Linked DNA regions of Homo sapiens: region 2 is linked to region 1. The links come from fine-mapping of genetic effects on plasma protein levels. Region 1 holds a variant in brackets. A gene starts in the other region. All regions are shown on their reverse strands.

Region 1 (5,528 bases):
TATTATATTATATAACCTTTCTCCAAAGCCCGCCCTGCTTTGACTGGGACCCTCTTCCTTTAGAAGCCTGCTAATAACAACTTGTGGATGACAAGCTCTGTCTTAACAAGCCGGATTAGTTAGTTTAAAGCAATGAACTGAGGCCATTTGTGCAGATGCTAATCAAAAAAAGAAAAAGGAAAAAATTAGAAAAGACCCATGAGCCTCCATCTCTTGTAAGTACAATATAGATAAAGAGGAGTGCGTCCCAGGGCCACATCTGTGAGCTGACCTCTAAGGCACACAAAGGTCTCCGGGGCTGTGGGGTTATAAAAGGAGGGAAGAGGGTTTGTATGGGGCCAGTAGCAGACAAGAGTGGCTCTGAAGGGGCAGTTATCGGAGGACTGTCTGAAGCTTTTTTTCCCCCTTGGAAATTGTTCTTTATTTGTCTCTTATGAGGACTTTGCTTTTGCTTCACAGACACTTCCCAGCTCCTAGCACGGAGCCTGGCACATAGTATAGGCGCAGATTAAATATTTGATGGATAAAAGATTAAATGGATAAGGAAAGATTCAAAAATGTTCAAATGTCAAGAACAAACATACAAATCCCACAAATATATGACTGACCTCTCCTTCCTCTCTTCACCAAGAACAAAACTAAAATTATATTAAACACAACAATCAGCACATTTAGAAAGACATTCTGTATCTTTGAAGATCAATGGCCAGATTGGTTATTAACATTCAACCATGACTGGCACTTTAAAATATATACACAAAAAGGAAAGCTACTCAGCAGATGATTCAGATTTAGAATATTGCAGAAAATTTAAGTCCATTTTAAAAAAAGTAATCTGTCATTTCATCGGCTTCTCTGAGAGGTCACTTTTTTCTACACCACAACTAGGAAAACTGACTCCTGAAGGAAGGAATGTTTGGTTTCCTTTCAAATATTCTGAGAATAACATAATATGCACTCTATTACATTTCAAATCTGAGTATGTAATCAGTGTGAGAGAGAAAAACAAATTACTAGAGAGAATACTAGCTCTCACATTCCAGAGGCTGAAACACACACACATACGCACACACGCACACACACACACACACACACACACACACACATACAGCTTCTATTGGCTCCTTAAATTTTAACTGCCTTCAGAGTACTATTTTTTTAGGAATTCTCTAAGCCAAATGTTTGCTGGAATGCTAACCTCCTTAGAAGCTCAGGATGTCCTGCTGAGATCATTCAGTTAGAAGACATTCAACTGCCCTAAAAGTTAGAGAAGGGTAAGTTTGAGAATTGGAAAGACTCTTAAAGAGCAAAACATAAAAGCTGCCTCTCTGAGTAACACTCATCTCTAACCCTCATAACAAATAATATTTTTGTACAAGAAGGTTGTAGTCAAACTCAAGAAGATACAGATATAACTCCAATGTTCCTTCTATAATTTACAGATAGAAAAGTACGCTCTTCATATATATTCAGCTCATACTGTCTCTCAGCCACAGAGATTCTTTTGTTTTACTGTCAATAATTATCTCATTTTCTCATGTCCCTGCCACCTTGAGCTGAGGAATAGGATCTAACCATGGTGTTGCTGCTTCCAATAAGTTTTAGGATCCAGTTTGTTTTAGACCTCACCTAATTCTCTGGAGTGTTCAAAGCCCAGGTAGGACAATCAGATCTGTCCTTTCAAAGGAGCTCTTTTATTACCAACCTTCTCTAGAATAGATCCCCAAGAATTGAACTAGAATATTTTGTTGTAGTTGAGTTCATCAAACCTGAGTAGGAAACCCACTACACACACACACACACACACACACACATTCAAGATTCCGGGGGAATATAAAATAAGTCAATACCTTCTTGTCCTGAGAGTTTACAATCAAGCTGGGACAGTTAAGAGAAGATTACTAATGGTTATAATATCAGGCAGGACAAAAGAAGTATAATCCGAGTACCTCGCAGAGGCAAAGAAGGGTTGATAAAGTGCTCTATGAAAAATTGAAAATTTGATGAGATTTGAAGGATTATATGTAAGATTTCAACAGACTAAAAGAAAGGCATGAACAAAGACATTCCAAAAGGCGGAAATGACATGAACACAGAGGCAGTAAAGTGTTAAGAAGAGTTTGGGCACACTGAAGAGACTTGTTTGACTAAGCAGAGCAAAGTAGAAGAAAACAAAGCTGTGGTCATATGAGAGGAAATAATATCTAATCCCAGGAGCATATGGGAGTTGCTGACCATTATTGAGCAAAAAAAAA[C/AC]ATTTTATTTGGGAACTCCAGCTTCACTAGATTCACAAAACACAACACTTTTTCAGGATTCCAAGGATGCCCCAGGCAAGCAACAGTCCCAAGGGTGCATTACCAGCAGAAAATCCAGGGGGGTCCCAATTTACACGGAGCACCTTTTTGCCCACTGCAAGTATGACCTTTTAAGAGTCAAAACAGCAAGATGTAAAACCTGTCCTGTTCTGCATGTCTTTGGAAATAAATAAACCTTTTCTATTTCAATACTTGGCATCGTGACAAGACCTAAGAGGAACTAGAGAGATAATTAATAAGGGCATGAGGGGAAAGTGCAATTAAAAATGGCAAAGACTACTTCGTAAATAAGTGCTTCATACTGCGAAAGATTATTACTGCGATCTCCAGCTTCAAACTGAAATCAAATCACTCTGAATGGATAATTTGAACATTATTAGGGGGGAAAAAGCCATCATGGTTCCTAGCCTCTAAATTACAGGAGAAACAAGATTTTATTCTGACTTCACCTTTCTGTCAGTTTAAATCAACAAAATAATCACAGTTTAGTCCCAGTTGGCATAACTCTCCATAACCTCAAGTTTTAACGTTCTTCAGTTTCTTAACCAGAAGAGGAAGTTAGATTGAGAATGCCTCAAGAAGAATCTTTTCCAGGGAACTATTAAAAAAAAAAGTCTCCTAGGAAACAAGAAAGGCAAACTCCCTTTATCTGAATAAGAGCCTTTGTTGGAAATAAAATCTAGCTGGAGCAAATCTGAAAGCACAAACCCCACCAGGCTTGGAGATGTTTGAACCTCTGTCCCAGTTTACAGAGCCCACTTAAAGTACTGATGTTTCCCATCTAAAAAGCAGTCCATGTGTTTGTCACTCTTAGGAGAACTTTTGGCTTCTGCCTTTTGAATGGAATGATTCAAAACTGTATCGTTTCCTGCAATTTAATTTCATAGCTAAATGCAAAGTATAGGAAGATAAGGTCACAGGGATATGGATCTATCTCCAGAAAGTGATCACACTCCCTGGGCTGCCGTAAGTGGAGATTTAATTGGATACAGTAGGTTTTGCTATGATTGTAACATGGAGATAAATTATTTTTAAAATGGCCAATGACCATTGGCAGCTCAGCAGGAATAGGGGTCAGAGAAGAGTACGGCTTCCAATTATGGCTTGAGATAGAAAGAATTGCTTACATCAATTTCAGATGGTTGTGAATAGCATCATTATTTTGTAATCATCATCATTATTGTCGTCATCATCATCATCCTGACTTATATTTTTTAGTAATCTTAGGAACAATGACTAGAGGGGAATACTGTATACTGTTCATTCTCTCTTTACCTTAGGTTGAGGAGGTCCACTAAAATAAAAATGGGATGAATAACTCCTATCATTCCTGCACAAAATAATTGACCCAAATTCCTTTAAGTCAGAAGTCAACAAATTATACCTGCAGTCCAAATCTAGCACTCTGCCTCTGTTTGTAAATAAGGCTTTATTGGAACACAGCCATACTTATTCATTTATGTATTGTCTATAGCTGCCTTTACAATACAATGACAAAGTTCAGTAGTTAATGATAGAGACCATGTGGCCTGCAAAGGTTGAAATATTTATTCTCTAGCTCCTCACTTTGCTAACCCCTTCTCTATCTTCATCATCAGTATCATAATCATCCCTTCCACTGTAGAAGTCATGGAGTATCTGAAGGTTTTAACACATCTTGTTTGATAACACCTTTCTGATTGATGAAGATGGAGACAATTGCAGTGCCCACAGACATCTCAGACTAGTGTCACTTCTCTATGAGAGATTCAGACCTGACATTCCCTTCATCATGGGACACTCAGGATAAGGACATCACTTTGTATGTAGAGTGAGGGCCAGTGCTCCTGTTTGTCAGTAAGACTGAGAGGCATTAGGCTTGATCTATGGACTGGGGCGATTCATCAGGAAATGACAGTGAGGGCTGTTAAACTTGGAAACTGCTTATTAAACCACCTTGTGTGTAATACATTTGTAACTGCACATATTCTCATCCATCTGGAGTGGAAATATGTAAACGAAGAAACATCAAAGTTGAGTATTAACCTGATTGGACTTTTATAAACTGCAGTAGCAGAATAAAATATTGGAAATAATTTAAAGCCTAGATGACCTTAGTTCAAATCCGGACACCCATTAGCTATGAACATTCGGACAAATTTCTTACCCTCTCGAAACTTCCATTTCTTAATCTGCAAAATAGAAATGTTAATAGATAACATTTATTTTTCAGGGTTGTTGCAGGAATTAAATAAGGTAATTCCTGAATAATGCCCAACACAGCGCAGTAGATGCTCAAAATGGCAATGGCAATGACTACTGTATTTGGCTTTAACTAAGAAGACAGTAGAATCCTTTCCTAAGAAAGACTGATTTCAATGCTCTTAGTAAATTGGGCTAATATTCTTAAAAGTTATTTAATTTGGTATTCAACTTGTTTTTAATATTATACTTAAAATATTATAGCTTGCATTTTTACATCACTTCGACTCCCAAAGCTTTTTCAAATGAACCCAACATTTCTGTGCCTGAAGTATGCTATAAGGATCAGGTATTTGTCCATTTAACAGATAAAGAAAATAAAGTTATACCTAGATTCCTACAGTAAATGAATTAAGCTAAGGCTCTGGCTGTAGTGCCTCATGGCTCAAGCACTTAGTACTACCCTGGATGTTATGTAATAGTCTTTTAAAAGTCAACTCTAACATCCTGGGGAAGGCAGGGATCCCAGTCAGAAAGCTACACTATAAGGAATGAAAGCCAGGGCAGAAGATGCTGAGAAAGAAGGCAAGACACTCAAGAAAGCAAGAATCTAACAGAAAGATGATGCTTCAGAATTCAGACAAATACAGCAGTGTGCCTTTAAAAAGGACCATGTCTATACTTCTATATTGCTTTCTATCTGAAGCTAAGCCAGAGGGATGTACATAGTGAGATCTTTGTCTCATTTCAGGAAGGATACAAGATAAAGATTCTGTGCCAGTAATCTTCCTTGGATTAATGGTTTCTCTTTTATCTGCTGTATTTCTGCTCAGATGTCTTTTCTCTGAATGAGTCAGAGGAATGCAAATGCTGGGTGCAGTCCGCCTGAAATATTTAAATCTAGTTTTGCAATGTTTTGCAGGTTTGGAGGGAAAAATTACACACACACACTTACATATGATGAAGGAATGGCAGATGAGAATTACAGACACATCAGCCAGCAATACAAAAATGTGGTATTTCAATTTGACA
Region 2 (5,000 bases), not on the chromosome of region 1:
CCTCTGGGGTTCAGGAACATTTTTTTCCTTACTCCCTAGTTGGAGCCACTTTGGCTCTATTAATGACTTACCCCAAGAAAACCTCACAGCAAGGACTCAACAGTGATGAGGGAGCTATACTAAAACAATATCCCCCAGATAGCCCAATGGGAGAGAGATTTGTATGGGCATGGGTTTAGTCAGAGCCCAAAACTTGTTGTGTCTTCTCTGGAAGAACCTCCCAGACCTCCCCAGCTAAACTCATAACCACATCCCTTTCCTAGTTTATCTTCTGTGTCCATTTACTGCACTGAAACTTCCTATTCCAAGTCAACGTTTCACCTCCAGATTGACATCCAAGCTGAAATCTGCTAACAGGGTCAGAAAACAGTTCATAAAGGAAAGTAAGCAAAAATGTTGAACCCATTCCAGCTTAATAAAAAAAAAAAAAGCCCACAATAACAAAATCTAAGGTTCTGTGTGCTTTCCTACCAATATAAAACACAGCTTTCTCCCAGAAACTCAACCATTTTCCATAATCATGATCTTCTATTAACAACTCACATCTTTCCAAGTAGGCACATTCTCTCTGTTCTCTTATGTCAAAAGTACATAACATGGTGCAGTGATCCAACTATGGGCTGGCTTCTCTGCAAACTGTCAACATTTCTCTCCCTGCCTTCCCTTTGTTCCTAAGAGCAGTTGTGGATTGGTATAGACCCAAAATGGAAGTTGAAATATGCATTGCATCATTTGTCACATTAGCTACAAAGGAAGCAGCAGAAGTAATCAGAAATGAGGAGCAGGAAATTTCCGATAAACAACTCTGATGGTTATCTGGAAGCTGAATTGAATCACAGGCACAAGAACTTGGAATTGCATTTTGAATTGCAGAATTAGAGGTAACTGCCTCCCACCTATATGATAGTGTCAATTAATCAAAAATTGAATATAGTTTTACAGGCTTAGCATTCCATTCCATTCTGCGACATGTCAGAGAGCATTTATTTATTTAACAGGCTGACATGAAGCACATTTGGATTTGGAAAAAGAAATAATTAAAAAGAACCACCCTGGGTGGCCCAGATGTGGATACTATTATGGATGTTGATAGTATTTGGAGGTGAAATGAACGAGTTTTTTTTTACAGACTCAATATTGACCAATGAAAACATGTAACTAATGAATTTAGCCCTGTAGTCAAGCAGTTTAAGCCTTTTTCAACATAGATTAGGAAGTTAGAATGGATGCCTCTCATTGAGTTTGCATTCAGTAGAATAAGTAAAGCTTGTTTAACTCATGCATCTCTCACTGGCCGCCTCTCTCTTTAATTTGGGAATAGAAAAGGGAGTCCACAATTAATTTTAGATTGTGAGAAGAGAGACAAAAAAAGGAGCAGAGAGTTTCTGAGATAACCTAAAATCTTTGCCGCACCCCTTACTAACCCCGGTTTGTGCCCCTTCACTATGGGAGTAGCTCTTGTCATCATCTAAAAAACTTGAACTGCATTTTGAGAGATTTATTGGCCTTGCTTCTGCAGGCTCATAACTCCTTTATGTGCTTGCTCTTGGGAGGAAAAAGCAGATAGACGTTTAAAAGCTGGATGTTCCTGCACACCCCTCTCCTGATGCTTCATTCTTTTCCAGGCAGAAAGATGGTGGGACTCTGTCTCTAGCAAAGGGATATTTCCAGATACTGAGGTGTTGTCAGAGACACCTGGTCAGGGAGGTTAGGAGAAGGGGCATCCAGGTCCACCCCCTCCAACTGGCTGCTGCTTTCCTGGCAGGGCTGCACTGGGACACCTCACTTCCTTCCCACTTCCCCTTCCTCCTCCCATTCGCTGTCTCTTTGCACACCCCTAATATGGCCTTTCATAGTAAGAGGTCAATATGTTTTCACACTTGGGAAATCTCATTCAAGAATTTTTGTCAATGGACAAGTCATAAGAAGCCCTTCCATTTTAGGGCTCGTTGACGTCACCAAGAGGCGATAAATATCTGTTGATATAATTGGATGTGAGATTCAGTGTTGAGATAGCAAAATTCTGCCCCTCGTTCCTTGGCAGGGCCCTATGATTTATGCAGGAGCAGAGGCAGCACGCAATCGAGCTGTCAAGAGAGCGTCAGCTTATTAGGCAAATGCTGCGTGGTTTTTGAAGAGGGTCGACACTATAAAATCCCACTCCAGGCTCTGGAGTGGAGAAACTCAGAGACCAAGTCCATTGAGAGACTGAGGGGAAAGAGAGGAGAGAAAGAAAAAGAGAGTGGGAACAGTAAAGAGAAAGGAAGACAACCTCCAGAGAAAGCCCCCGGAGACGTCTCTCTGCAGAGAGGCGGCAGCACCCGGCTCACCTGCGAAGCGCCTGGGAAGGTAGGGAGCGCCTGGACGGAACACGCCACCAACTTTGCGTTGCCTGAGCTGCCGCGATGTGCGCCGCGGAGCCGGCTGCCCCTGCCTGTGTACGTGTGTATGCATGTGTGTGCGTGCGTGTGTGTGTGTGTATGCATGTGTGTATGCGTATGTGTGTGTGTGTATGCGCGCGTGCGTGCGTGTGTGTGTGCGCGCGTGTTCGCGGACTATTCCTTAAGATTACAATAGTAGCTGGGATGTGGCAAAAGCAAACTTAGACGGCTGCTCTTCGTTACCCGTGCTGCCAGTTGCTCCTTGCTGGCTGTGTAAAGGAGCTCCCCCACCCCCTTCTATCCTAACCCCCGAGATAAGGCAGCAAGGGCAGAAGTGGAGAGGGAGGACCATGAGGCAGTAGTTCTCAATTTGGAAGAAAATGCTGAAATATCCGGAAGGGAGGTAGTCAGCGCGGGTGGGATCTTAAATCTGTGGCTCTTCTCTAGGATCGGGAAAATTAGTTTTGAGGATCGTTAGGAAGAGGACGCAGGGACCGTCCTTTCAGAGTCTAGAAAGAAGGGTCACTCCTGGCCGGTGAGCGCATGAGCTTAGGTGCGGAGCCCTGCAGGCGCCCCCTTTCCCCGCTCCCCAGGCGCTTCAGCACCGCGGACAGCGCCCATCCGAATCACTGAGGCCAAAGCCCAGCACGTCTAAGGCAGTCCCGTAGGAAGACCCCGTGTGCACCTCCCAGCTGAGCGAACTCTAACCAACTCTTTCTTTCTCTCTTCCCCTCTCTCATTCCGCCCTCCGCCCACCTCTGTGCCGCAGCGAGTGCCCCTAACATGCGGCTGCCGCTGCTTGTGTCCGCGGGAGTCCTGCTGGTGGCTCTCCTGCCCTGCCCGCCATGCAGGGCGCTCCTGAGCCGCGGGCCGGTCCCGGGAGCTCGGCAGGCGCCGCAGCACCCTCAGCCCTTGGATTTCTTCCAGCCGCCGCCGCAGTCCGAGCAGCCCCAGCAGCCGCAGGCTCGGCCGGTCCTGCTCCGCATGGGAGAGGAGTACTTCCTCCGCCTGGGGAACCTCAACAAGAGCCCGGCCGCTCCCCTTTCGCCCGCCTCCTCGCTCCTCGCCGGAGGCAGCGGCAGCCGCCCTTCGCCGGAACAGGCGACCGCCAACTTTTTCCGCGTGTTGCTGCAGCAGCTGCTGCTGCCTCGGCGCTCGCTCGACAGCCCCGCGGCTCTCGCGGAGCGCGGCGCTAGGAATGCCCTCGGCGGCCACCAGGAGGCACCGGAGAGAGAAAGGCGGTCCGAGGAGCCTCCCATCTCCCTGGATCTCACCTTCCACCTCCTCCGGGAAGTCTTGGAAATGGCCAGGGCCGAGCAGTTAGCACAGCAAGCTCACAGCAACAGGAAACTCATGGAGATTATTGGGAAATAAAACGGTGCGTTTGGCCAAAAAGAATCTGCATTTAGCACAAAAAAAATTTAAAAAAATACAGTATTCTGTACCATAGCGCTGCTCTTATGCCATTTGTTTATTTTTATATAGCTTGAAACATAGAGGGAGAGAGGGAGAGAGCCTATACCCCTTACTTAGCATGCACAAAGTGTATTCACGTGCAGCAGCAACACAATGTTATTCGTTTTGTCTACGTTTAGTTTCCGTTTCCAGGTGTTTATAGTGGTGTTTTAAAGAGAATGTAGACCTGTGAGAAAACGTTTTGTTTGAAAAAGCAGACAGAAGTCACTCAATTGTTTTTGTTGTGGTCTGAGCCAAAGAGAATGCCATTCTCTTGGGTGGGTAAGACTAAATCTGTAAGCTCTTTGAAACAACTTTCTCTTGTAAACGTTTCAGTAATAAAACATCTTTCCAGTCCTTGGTCAGTTTGGTTGTGTAAGAGAATGTTGAATACTTATATTTTTAATAAAAGTTGCAAAGGTAATCATGACTTTACTGTTTCTCTTCAGTGCTCATACACTGGAAATACTCTCTTAGCTTCCTCCAAATTGTCTTCAGCACCAGAAAAGAAAAGCAAAACTTCCTGCATTATATTTTTCCACTAAAAATGCAAACATATGTCAGTGGCTTACACAGACCCTGCAATCACGTTGGGCTCATCTCTGTGCCATGGACTACTTCTCTGAGGTTGAGTTAATAATTCAGGAAGTTGCTCCCAGCAGCTCTAAAACATGGTAATTCTAAAAGGGAAGATCATTTTATAATGGAAATAACATTTAGCCCTGATCAATTAAAATATATGAAATAATTGGAGATAGTGGGGAAAAGATGAGGAAGAGAGAAGTGTCAAGCTAGAAATTCCTCCAAACTGTATGGCCAAAATGCTGCATTCTTTTTCTATGAGAAAAACTCACTCTGTCAAACTACTACTTTGGTACCATAAAACTATTTTTTCTAAGCTATTTTCCAATGACTACATCTAATAAGAGAAACTTAATAGCATCTCCACTTAAGACGACTAAATTTAGTCATTATAAAATGTCACATAGGAAAATTTTCTTATGAAGAACATTTTGACTTTAATAATTACACAAATATCCTCCACATTTTTGCTTATGTCAACCCTAATCACTTTTATTCTTAGGAACAGGAACTACCTTTGTTCATTTCTAAAACTGAACAGCACATTTAATTAGTTTTACAGTGCATTTGCCTTTGGTAGTT

Direction of the effects. Alleles are on the strand shown, and positions count from the first base shown. The strength of an association depends on the size of the effect and on how common the allele is.
For the plasma level of the protein whose gene starts at base 2,178 in region 2, C is the low allele of the variant in region 1 and AC is the other (weak association).

What was found. PIP is the chance, under the fine-mapping model, that this variant and not a neighbour inherited with it causes the effect. The UK Biobank Pharma Proteomics Project read protein levels with antibody pairs (Olink). The fine-mapping took linkage between variants from a reference panel, not from the people measured, so its PIPs are less certain.
Region 2: CRH starts here. The variant in region 1 is fine-mapped to the plasma level of the CRH protein (UK Biobank, PIP 0.97).

The regions. Positions count from the first base shown.
Region 1 is chr9:105,969,658-105,975,185 of GRCh38, reverse strand. All of the region lies in intron 2 of LOC107987108 (a long non-coding RNA gene), which reads right to left. Among named protein-coding and RNA genes, the nearest start is that of TMEM38B, 280 kb to the right of the region's middle. The variant C/AC (reference allele first, on the strand shown) is at 2,256.
Region 2 is chr8:66,175,642-66,180,641 of GRCh38, reverse strand. CRH (corticotropin releasing hormone) reads left to right here and starts at 2,178. Exons shown (of 2, transcript NM_000756.4): 1 at 2,178-2,349; 2 at 3,151-4,266. The coding sequence starts at 3,165. The coding sequence ends at 3,755. LOC112268029 (a long non-coding RNA gene) reads left to right here. Exons shown (of 4, transcript XR_002956713.2): 4 at 682-756. RefSeq lists an enhancer at 3,223-3,292.